Regions from separate parts of the Homo sapiens genome. Here region 1 is linked to region 2. Evidence: fine-mapped expression QTL. A gene starts in region 2. The other region holds a variant in brackets. All regions are shown on one strand. Distances are between the middles of the regions.

Region 1 (5,494 bases), 46 kb before region 2:
AGGGACAGCTGGGGTGCCACAGAAGGTTTGAGTATGGTGGAACCAGAGAGATTCCAGCTCAGACCCTGTCTCCAGCCCAGCCAGCTGGTGTCTTTGGACAAGCCTGTTTCCCAGCTGTTAAGTGGGTTCAGTGATGTCCATCTTCCAAGGTTATTGCAGGGCGTGAATTTATAAAACCCCAAGCTGGGCCTTGGGCAATGCAATACATTGCAGCCTTCTGGTTCCTTCGTCCTAAGTAAGAAGGCATCTTCTCTATTTCCAGCAGCTTCCATAGGGTGCTGGGGTGTGGGGCATTAGAGAGGTCCTGTCACAAATCTCAGGCTGGCGATGAGAGGGATATGCATAGAGATGGCCACCTGTCCACCTAACTCTGCTCATGCTCTCCTGCCCCAGAGGGTACTCCTGCTGAGGTGAGGGGTCCCCTGGGCTGGGGAGAGACCTTTGAGAAGGACGATGGAAAAATAAAAGTCTGCCAGAATTGGCAGGGTGCAGTGGCTTATGCCTGTAGTACCAGCATTTTGGGAGGCTGAGGTGGGTGGATCACTTGAAGTCAGGAGTTCGAGACCAGCCAGGCCAAAATGGTGACACCCTGTCTCTCCTACAAATACAAAATTTAGCCAGGTGTGGTGGCGCACACCTATAATCCCACCTACTGTGGAGGCTGAGGCACGAGAATTTCTTGAAACTGGGAGGCGGAGGTTGCAGTGAGCTGAGATCGCACCATTGCACTCCAGCCTGGGCGACAGAGTGAGACTCCCTCTCAAAAACAAAACAAAACAAAAATCTACCAAAATATCTAAGGTTTATTCTGAGCCAATATGAGTGACCATGGACCAGGGAAACAGTCTCAGGAAATCCTTAGAAAGTGCACTTGAGGCAGTTGGGTTACAGTTTGGCTTTATATATTTCATGGAGTCAGAAATTGCAGGTAAAGCCATAAATCAATACCTGGAAGGTATATATTGATTCAGCCTGAAAAAGCTGGATACCGCGAAGCAGAAGCTTACAAGTCATAGGTAGGTTTAGGGATTCTTTTTGTGGCAATTGATTGAAAGACTTAAGCTTTGTCTAAAAATTTGGAGTTGATAGAAAGGAATACTTAAGTTAAAATAAGGGGGTCTGCCACCCATCATGTGATGCCATACCAGAAGAAGGTTGAAAAGTGAGCCACATTGTAGTAGATCAAAAAATAAGACCTGTTGGCCAGGTGCGGTGGCTCATGCCTGTAATCCCAGCACTTTGCAGACCGAGGTGGGAGGATCACAAGGTCAGGAGTTCAAGAGCAGCCTAACCAACCTGGTGAAACCCTGTCTGTACTAAAAATACACAAAGTAGCCGGGTGTGGTGGCGGGTGCCTGTAATCCCAGCTACTCAGGAGGCTGAGGCAGGAGAAACACTTGAACTCGGGAGGCAGAGGTTGCAGTGAGCTAAGATCATGCCATTGCACTCCAGCCTGGGTGACAAAGCGAGACTCTGTCTCAAATAAATAAATAAGACCTATTTAATGAGATTTTATGGTTTGTAAGGCATGACTCCCCAGGCCCCTTCAAAAGGAAAAAAAAAGTCAGAGCTCAGTCCTCAAGAAGCTTGCCCAAGCCCCAGAGAGGCAGTGGAGCCCCTGGGATGGACGAGGGAAGCCCAGCACAGAGTTTCATTGACTTGCCTAAAGCCACACAGCTGGGAAAACCCAGTGCCCTGGACTCCACGCTCCTGATACCGTTGAAGGAAGATCTGAAAAAGAAGGGCTGTGGCCAGGGGCGCCTGAAGGGAAGGAGAGAGGGACAGTAAAGAAGAGTAAGAAAAGAATGGAGGGAGAAGGAAGACTGGGACAGTCTGGTGCCACCTCAAAAGTCAGGAATAAAGTTAAAGCTTATAAAAGAAGTTAAACTATTCCCTTTATCCCTTTTCCTCGCCCTGCCCTTCAAAAAGCGAAGGCAAAAATGACTCAGCATTCAGAGCCCCAGTCC[G/A]GAAACCTGGCTCCTCACTAACTAGCTGTGTGGCTTTGGCCAGTTTCCTAACTTCTCTTGATGTTTCTTTCCTCATTTACAAAATGAGAAGGCTGGGTAAGATGATCTCTGTTGTCTCTTCTAGCTGGAAACATTTCTGTGATGATTAAAGCAAAAATCCTGGAACCCCTTCTGCTGTGATTGCTTTGAGGTGGAGAAGCCCGCACAATTGCCTTGGGAAGGTGGCTCACTCCTTTTTAGTTCAGCCAAGGAAGATTTTGGAATGATGGGAAAGCCAGAAGCAGCCTGGAGCTGATGCTCCAGGGTAGAGGAGCAGCCCACTCCCTTGACCACCCCCTCACCTCCACCAGCAGCCCAAGATCCTTCTGCCTCCCTGGAAATGGCTTAATTTACATCACAGTAACCTGCTTAAAAGGAAGCCAGGGATAACCTGGGTGACAACATGAGTTTGCTAGGGGCTACCATGATAAAATAACGTGGGTTCGGTGGCATAAACAACAGACATATATTGTCTCACAATTCCGGAGGCTAAAAGTCTAAGATCAAGGTGTCGGTAGGGTTGGCTCTTGGGGCTTCTCTCCTTGGCTCACAGATGGCCCTCTTCTCCCTGTGTCTTTCTGTGGTTGTCCCTCTTGTCTGTGCATGTCTGTGTCCAAATTTCCTCTTCCTGTAAGGACACAAGTCATATTAGATTGGGGCTCATTGTAATGACCCCATTTTACTGTAATTGCCTCGTTAAGACCCTATCTCCAAATACAGTAACAATTAGATGTAGCAGTGGTTAGAGATGCAACATATGATCTTCATGATAGTGACCATGACATTTATTATCAATGCTGGAATAATTCGAAAGAAATATTTTTGAACTTTTTATTAAAGTTTACAACATACATACTGAAAAGTGCACACATTAGATGTTTATAGCTTGAACATACTCACATAACCAGATGACTAGTACTCCTGAAATTTCTGCTTTGTGTCCTCTTGTACTTATTCCCTCTCAGGTAACCATCATTCTGACTTCTAACACCATACCTTAGCTTCTCTTGTTTTTGTAGTTTCTCTACAAAATCAAACAAAATGTAATCTTCCGCATCTGCCTTCTTCAGTGGACATATGTTTGTGAGATTTGCTCATGTTCTAGGGTGCAGCTTTAGCCTGCTGATCCTCACTGCTGTGTGCAGTGTATAGTATGTCGTTGCGTGAATATTCCACAGTTAGTCTGTGTTTTCTACCATTGATGAGCTTTTGTGTAGTTCCCAGTCGGGGATCAATATAGACCTGAAGATCCTAGTGCATGTCTTTAGGTGGACATATTTTACCCTTTTCTCTTTGCATATACTTAGAAGCAAATTTCTGGGTCATAGGTTCTGCACATGAACAGCTCTACTAGAGACTGTCAAACACTTTTCCAGAGTAGTTGCACCAATTTACAACCCACGCTGGCAGTGTACGGGAGTTCTAGGTGCTCCAATTTTTTTTTTTTTTTTGCTTCTACATGGCTTTTTTACTTCTACATGGCTTTTTGCTTTGCTTCTACGTGGCTTTTTCCCCTCTACCTTTCTTAATTTGGCCATTCTGTTGAGTACATGGCGACGTCTTGCTGTGGTGTTAATTTGCAGTTATGTGATGACTCCTGATGAGGGACATCCTGGCATTTGTTGACTGGCCACTTGGCTGGCCTCCTTCCTCTGTGAAGTGCCTTTTCAAGTCTTCTGCCCATTTTCTCTATTGGATTATTTATCTTTTTTTCTTGTTGTTTTGTAGGAATACTTTATATATTCTCCATGAGTTTTCTGCTGATTGTAGGACAATTTTTGGAGTCAAAGTGGGGAGTTGTGGATAATAAGCTGTAATAAGTGCCATAAACCAGCACCACTAGACAGATTGGCAAACTTGACTTCTCGGCACATAGTGCATTCCAGTTTTACGAAGATTTAAAGAGACAAATTTGGAAGCACCAATGGCTCATATGAGAACAGAAGGGGGGGAAATGCCATGTTTTCAGTATACAGCTTTATAGGGCTTTCAGTTCCTTCTCTTCCTACATCTTTTTGAAGATGTTCACCTTCAGAGTCCAACATTGGAATGAGTTTTTATTCCTCTGTGCTGCTGATTCAGCACTCTGTTTTCTATATGTCTGTGATCATCTGCCTTAGCTTCATTAACCTTCTGACATTTTATGATTCTCTTAGTCCAACCCCCCAATTTTATTAATAAAGAAACAAGCCTGGCTGGGTGCAGTGGCTCACCAGCTCTTTGGGAGGCCAAGGCGGGTGGATCACAAGGTTGGGAGATCGAGACCATCCTGGCTAACACGGTGAAACCCTGTCTCTAGTAAAAATACAAAAATTATCTGGGCGTGGTGGTGGGTGCCTATAGTCCCAGCTACTCGGGAGGCTGAGGCAGGAGAATGGCGTGAACCTGGGTGGCGGAGGTTGCAGTGAGCCGAGACCGCACCACTGCACTCCAGCCTGGGCGACAGAGCGAGACTCCATCTCAAAAAAAAAAAACAAAAAACTAAAAAAGTAGCCTAAAATGGTTAAATGACATCCCCCAAGGTGACACTGCTGGTTAGTACAGAGCTGGGACTAGAATCCAAGGCTACTGTGCTTTTCTCCAAAGGCATCTTCACAAGTCTTTAGTATTTAAATCAACCCATAAGTACCTTTGACCATGTACAGGGTCATTGGAGGCATTGGTGTCAGCTGGAATATTGGGGTTGGAGGGCAGGCCCTGGCCTGGAAGCTGGAGGACTTGGCTGCTGATGATAGTGGCTCAGCGAGCAGCCTCTGCTTTCACATTGGCGAGATAATAAGGCTGCACTACAGTGTCCTCTGACAGCCCTTCCATCCCTGAGTTCTACATCCAAAAATGTCTCCCCTGAGGGAAGAGAAAGGAGAGCTGGTTTTTTCTTTTTTTAAACAAGAACCAAGTAAATAAGTATGGATTTCCTTTGAAAGGAAATGATTGGGTTTCTCTAGTCAATAAAGAGAAAGGAGAGAAATAGGGCTTCAAATAAGTAAACTCCTTTGTGATGTGAGTGGTATTGAATAGTCTCTCAGTTCAAATGGGCAAAAGGAAATGTCTGTTTATGGTTGGAGGCCTCCAGGTTATCCCTGAGAGACTAAGTGATGTTACCTTAGGAGGCTGAACAACCTCCCCGCAGGCCACTACATTAAAGACATTTATATAATTGAGACTCTTATGGTTGGAAGTAAGTGAAAACCATATTCACATTGGCTTAAGAAAAAAGAATGTATTAGCTTATATAATTGAAAAGCCTATAGGTAGATCCTATTTTAGGATTGTAGGATCCAGGCTCAAACAATATTAGAAATAATTCTTTCTCCTTCTCACAATGTTATGTCTTTGCCTTCCTGTGCATTGGCAAAGGAGAGCTTTTCAGGGAAGCCGCCCCAGTGTTGGGGATGTCATGGCCACAGAGTTACAGGCTTGTTTTCCTGGTTTAGCAACTCCAGCAGAATATTTTTTTTTTTCCAGCAGATGTCCTGAGGTTGCCTCTT
Region 2 (5,000 bases):
TTTGACCTTGAAACTGAAGTAACAGCTCTACCTATTCTCCCAAAGTTCCAGATATACTTTGGGGAACTTTGACTTCTGATAAGACAGCTGGGGTAGGGGGTGAGGAGAGGGTTGGAAAGTTCTACCTCAGTGAGAAGATTCTTGGTCAACTAGAGGGAGTGAGGGCTATCCCACAAGACCTCCCCTTCCCCCACAGGATGCTCAGGACTTCTTCTCAGCTAGCCAGCAGCTAAGCTGGTAGGGCTGAGAACGGCATTCCTTTGAAAGATCTTGGCAATTTGTGCCTGGAAGTTGATGCATTAGTTCTAAAATTAAACAAAGATCCTGTAGTGTTCTTCAAGGAAATATGGTGTGCCTCTATGACAAAACACATTTTTCAAGCTCTGACCTCTGGGAGCTTCAACTAGCTCCATATTTCAGGCTGACAATGCTCACAGGCTACTGTCTAGTTGCCCAAGCCAGGGCTGGTTAGCCATATATTTTCTACCTCCATCAGCTTTTAGCATAGGGAGGTGAAGGGAGTAAATAAAAAGAGGAGAGCCACTAATTTACATGCACTTCCCCTCCCAAGACCCTTGGGGAGAAGCCTTGGTAATTAACTCTAATGAGATTAAAGTAACTTGGAACTCTTCATTTTCCCAGCACTGTAAAACTAAATCTGCGATAACCAGTGTGTGGGCATTAAATCAAAGTCAGTCCTTTTTCCTGCTATTTAATGGCCCCCTCACTCCCACCCCACAGCCCAGGCTTAAGAGCGAGGGGGAGGGCTGCCAGGCTCTTACCGGCACTTTGCTCCATCACTTCTTTCTGACACATGTCTTGAACGTTCACCGTGCAATTCACAATGAACTCGGGGGAGGAGCAGTCGTTGTTCAGCTGGAATTCTTCACACTGGTAGCACTGGATTTGCAGCGCAAAGCCTGCGAGACAGACGCAGTCGGGTTCAGATCCGGCCCCCACAGAGCCCACCCCGGAAATCACGACCATCCCACGCCTCAGAGCCAGGCGGCTCCCAGCCTCTGGCAGGCTTAGACCACTCCTGGGTCTCCGGGTAGGGCTGGATGTGGCTGACACCGGCAGGGGGCGGCGCGGGTACCTAGGGTCCTACGGAAGAAAGTGGAATAGTGCCCGCCACCCCTGGACCCCGGCTCTAGACACAAAGCGCCCATCCATTACCACCCCAGGCCTTTTCCCAAGAAGTTGAAGGGAGGGTGGGGACGGTACCACCGCAAGAGTGAAGTAGCTCTGGAGATGTGCGTTAGCTCCAGCCTAAGCCAAAGGATTTGCCTAATTGCTAATTGGTTACAAATTACTTAATTACTATTTTGGCACCATTCGTGATTACATTCGCAGACGTCTTTTTAGTTTTTATTTATTTAATTTTTAAAGTCAGCGTTTCTGTGCCAGGGCTCTGAGGATCCCTGAGCGACCACCTGGGAACAACTTGGGTGGAGGTGCCAGACGCCAAGCGCTGCTGCGCCGCAAGTCCCCGAGCCCGGGTCGGCGGCCCTTCTCCGGGGCCGTCCCCGCGGCGACCCGAATGGCCACAGAGGGTGGGAAAGGGCGTTTGTGAGCGCGCGCACCCTGGATCCCCGACCCCGCAGCCCTTTCTTCCAGGCCCCGGCTTTCAGGACAACCGTTCGACTAGGGTCAGTGGTCGGGGTTCCAGCTCTGCAGAGCTTAGTCGGGAGCCAGTAGGCGAACTGGAGAGAGGACGCGAGACCTTTGCGCCTCTGGACGCTTCGGCCTGGCTGTTCTCGGTGTACGCGCTCCTGTCTAGACCCAACTACCCACGCTCCCGCAGCCCCACATCTATCGCACTCTGAGCGCAGCAACCCAGCTTCAGCGTGGCCGCAGGCTGCCTCGCGCATCGCTCACCTGTCGGCGGCGCCACTCCCACGGGGTGCCGGAGGCGCCAGACAACTTGGCAGGGTTCGGGAGATGTCGCCCCCTCTCCCTCGCCCAGAACCCAGCACCGCTCGGACCCTCCCTCCTCTCAAGCCCAGCTTCTCCCGACGGTGCAGCCGGACAAGCTGCAGCCCGGAGTCCCGCAAACCCGCCGCTCCCCGCTCTCCTCCTGCAGCGCGGGACTTGGACACTTTCCCAGCCTCGCGCCCCGGGGCACCAGTCGCGGCCGCCAACTCCCGCTGGGCAGCCCCAGCGCAGGGCTGGCCCCGAGGTGGGCGCCTTGGGGGCAAAAGGGCTGGCGGGTAGATGGATTGTGCGCACCTGGCCTCGGCTGCTGGCCTCTGGGTATTCTCACCTGGAAGCAAGAACAATCCGCAAAAAGTTGCCGCGATGCCTAGGACCCACATTCTCCCGGAGTCCCGGGGCCGGGAGAGGGCAAGCGCATCAGAGGAGGCGACAGCAGCGGAGGCTGCCCCGGCTGCAGCGGCTGTGGCTGCCGAGGCTGCTGGGGCCCGCGCTGCTGCCGCGGAGACGACGGTCGTAGCTTAGAGGAGCCGCAGGTGCCGCTCGCGGAGCCTGCATCGCCCGCGCTCGGGCTCCCGGCTGCGGGTCTCTGCTCCTCCCGCTCGCGCTCCCGGGCCGAGCACCGCGCCTCCGGAGTTGGCGGCTGAGACTGAAGGAACTACTGGCGATCGGGAGCACCCACAAAAGTCTCGCCTTTTCTCCCCACCTCCCACTCCAGGCATCACGTGACGGCTGCCGAGTTGGGGTGGGGGTGGCGGGCGGGGAAGGCTGGGACGGTCGCTTCACATCCCCACCCCCTTCCTGTCTTCCTCTTCTCCCGCCTCCGCACGTTCCTGGGAAAGGGGCGCCGGGGGGCGGGAGAGAACTGGTAGTTTTCTGAGATGGGGAGGTTGGGGGAGCGGCGAGGAGGGCGCAGCAGGTGCCGTGGGGACCTGCCGGGTGCGGACTAGGGTCTGAGGACTGCGTGCCCGGCTGGCCCTTCGCACATAGGAAGGCAGCCTCCCCACTCCACGTCCTCTGCGCCTTCCAGGACTGGTCGGTACCCCAGCGACTGGGTCCAGCCCACACAACTGAGGCTGTCCCGCTGCGGGCCGCGGGAGCCTGGCGCCCCGGGAGGCTGACAGGAAGGGCGCGCGTTCCCGTGCGCCTGGCAAAGTTCCACGCCCGCAGGCTCCGTAGGGTGTCCTGTGCAGCTGTGCCCCCTCTTCCTCCGCGAAGGCCTTCTGTCAAGAACCAGCTCGGCGTGGCCAATCTGGGTGGGGGTGTGGTGGGGACACTGCCTTAACTGTCTCACTTGCCCGGGCCGCCCTCCCTTCTCCCGCCTGCGCGCACCGCTGGAGGGTGCATTGACACCGCCCTGGTCGCCTAGCCTAGGAGAACGCCGTCCCGGGGACACCTGCCGTGAGGTCCTACCAGAAAGCAAATCAGGGTGAGGAAGAGGGTTGTTCTCCTCCATTCCTTGTCTCCCAAACGCCAGCCGGCTCCATTCTGCTTTCCCCAAAGCCACCGATTATTAGCACATACTCCCACGTCCTCTCCTGAAAGGCCATCCCAGCCTCGGACTCGGCCTCTGGCTGCTCCCCACACCCCTCAAATTCGTCTTCTTTCCGCAAAGTCCAAGTGACCCACCTTGCGGACTCCCGGGGATGCCCCGGTGCTATCTTCGCCTTCCTTCCCGAGCCTTGCAGCAGGTGGTGCGGGAGACCGCTTGCCCGCCGGAGTGCGTTGGTGCCCCCGCCCCCAATCCGCACATTCCCATCCCCTTTCCGCACATCCTTAGGGAGCATCCATTTCCGTGGAAATCGCCTCCTAAGCTTTAGCTCCTCTTCACCCTTTTCTCCCCCGGCCACTTCTGGGGGCAGCTCTCTCACGCCGGGACGCTGATCATTTATTTCTGCATCCTCCCAGCAGAGCTGGTCTGTAAAGGGGCTTAAATGACTTTCTTTGTAATTCCTCTGCAGAGATCGTTCCATATCTGCCTCAGGCTCCTTCTCTCCCTCCCTCCCTCCCTCTCCCCCTTCTTTCATTTCTATTTGGTTAACCCCTCGGGGAGACTGAAATGCTTTGACCATTACTCACCTGTCTGCAGACTCTGATCTTACAATTGGCTAAATTACTATCTCTGGAGCAAAAGGGCCAATTTATTTATTCCTTCTGGGAACCCATTGTAAGAGCACGTGTGAGTCATGATTCAAGTAACTGACTGGGCCAAAAGGTCCTTGAGCAAGTTATTTTCTGTTTTCAGAGGGTGCAAATGTGATATAACTTTTATTCAGAAAGGAAACAAAAAGATTTTTTAAAGTCTGAAAGACAAGGACATTTTACATAATTTTCATTTAAGATAAAATAAAACAAATTGCACAAATTAACCAAATAACACTGATCATACAATACTCTTTAAAGAAACAATTATGTGCTAAAGTAGCCATATAGATCCTAAAAATATTTCTATTGGGCCTAGTTTACAAGCTCCTGTACATAAGTAATTATAAATAGTTCACATCTAGAAAAAATACACATAACCTTTAAAATAGAATTTATCCTTACATATAAACAGTCTTTGTAGAAAAAAAAGGATATTAAAAAGAATTCTTCGTAGCACCATTAATTTTATTTTTAAAAGTGAACATTGCAAATAGAAATTTGTTTTCATTTTTAGAGTGCCCAGATTTTAATAAAAAGAGCAAGAAGATAAAAATCAAATAATATTCAGGATCATAGAGAAGCACTAAGTAAAAGACAATCTAAAGAAATGTCTGGAAGGAAAAACTGGTATTGGGAATAGAATTCGGTCATTTCTGATACAATGTCACACTCCCAATCAGTGTCCACACTTCAGGACCCTTTTCATTTTTCAGCAGAAGCAGAATGACACTTATTACTATCACCTGAATCTCTGGCAACGAATCTGAAATTACACTAAAATGAACATTTCCATCAAATTGAGATTTGTGAGATGGAGATGAGGAGGAACCCTCCGATTTTTTGGCAGGCCCTGTTGTAGGTTTACAGAGTGTACCCACAAACAATTTGAGGACCAGGACAACGAACTTCACAAAAACTTCAGT

The links. PIP is the estimated chance that this variant, and not a neighbour inherited with it, causes the effect.
Region 1: its variant is fine-mapped to the expression of LYPD1 in whole blood (TOPMed, PIP above 0.99).

The regions. Positions count from the first base shown.
Region 1 is chr2:132,621,632-132,627,125 of GRCh38, forward strand. The region is part of intron 1 of GPR39 (G protein-coupled receptor 39); the gene reads left to right. Among named protein-coding and RNA genes, the nearest start is that of LYPD1, 46 kb to the right of the region's middle. The variant G/A (reference allele first, on the strand shown) is at 1,968.
Region 2 is chr2:132,667,618-132,672,617 of GRCh38, forward strand. LYPD1 (LY6/PLAUR domain containing 1) reads right to left here and starts at 2,588. Exons shown (of 3, transcript NM_144586.7): 1 at 2,264-2,588; 2 at 783-920. The coding sequence starts at 2,315. NCKAP5 (NCK associated protein 5) reads right to left here. Exons shown (of 20, transcript NM_207363.3): 20 at 4,171-5,000. RefSeq lists an enhancer at 1,451-2,414.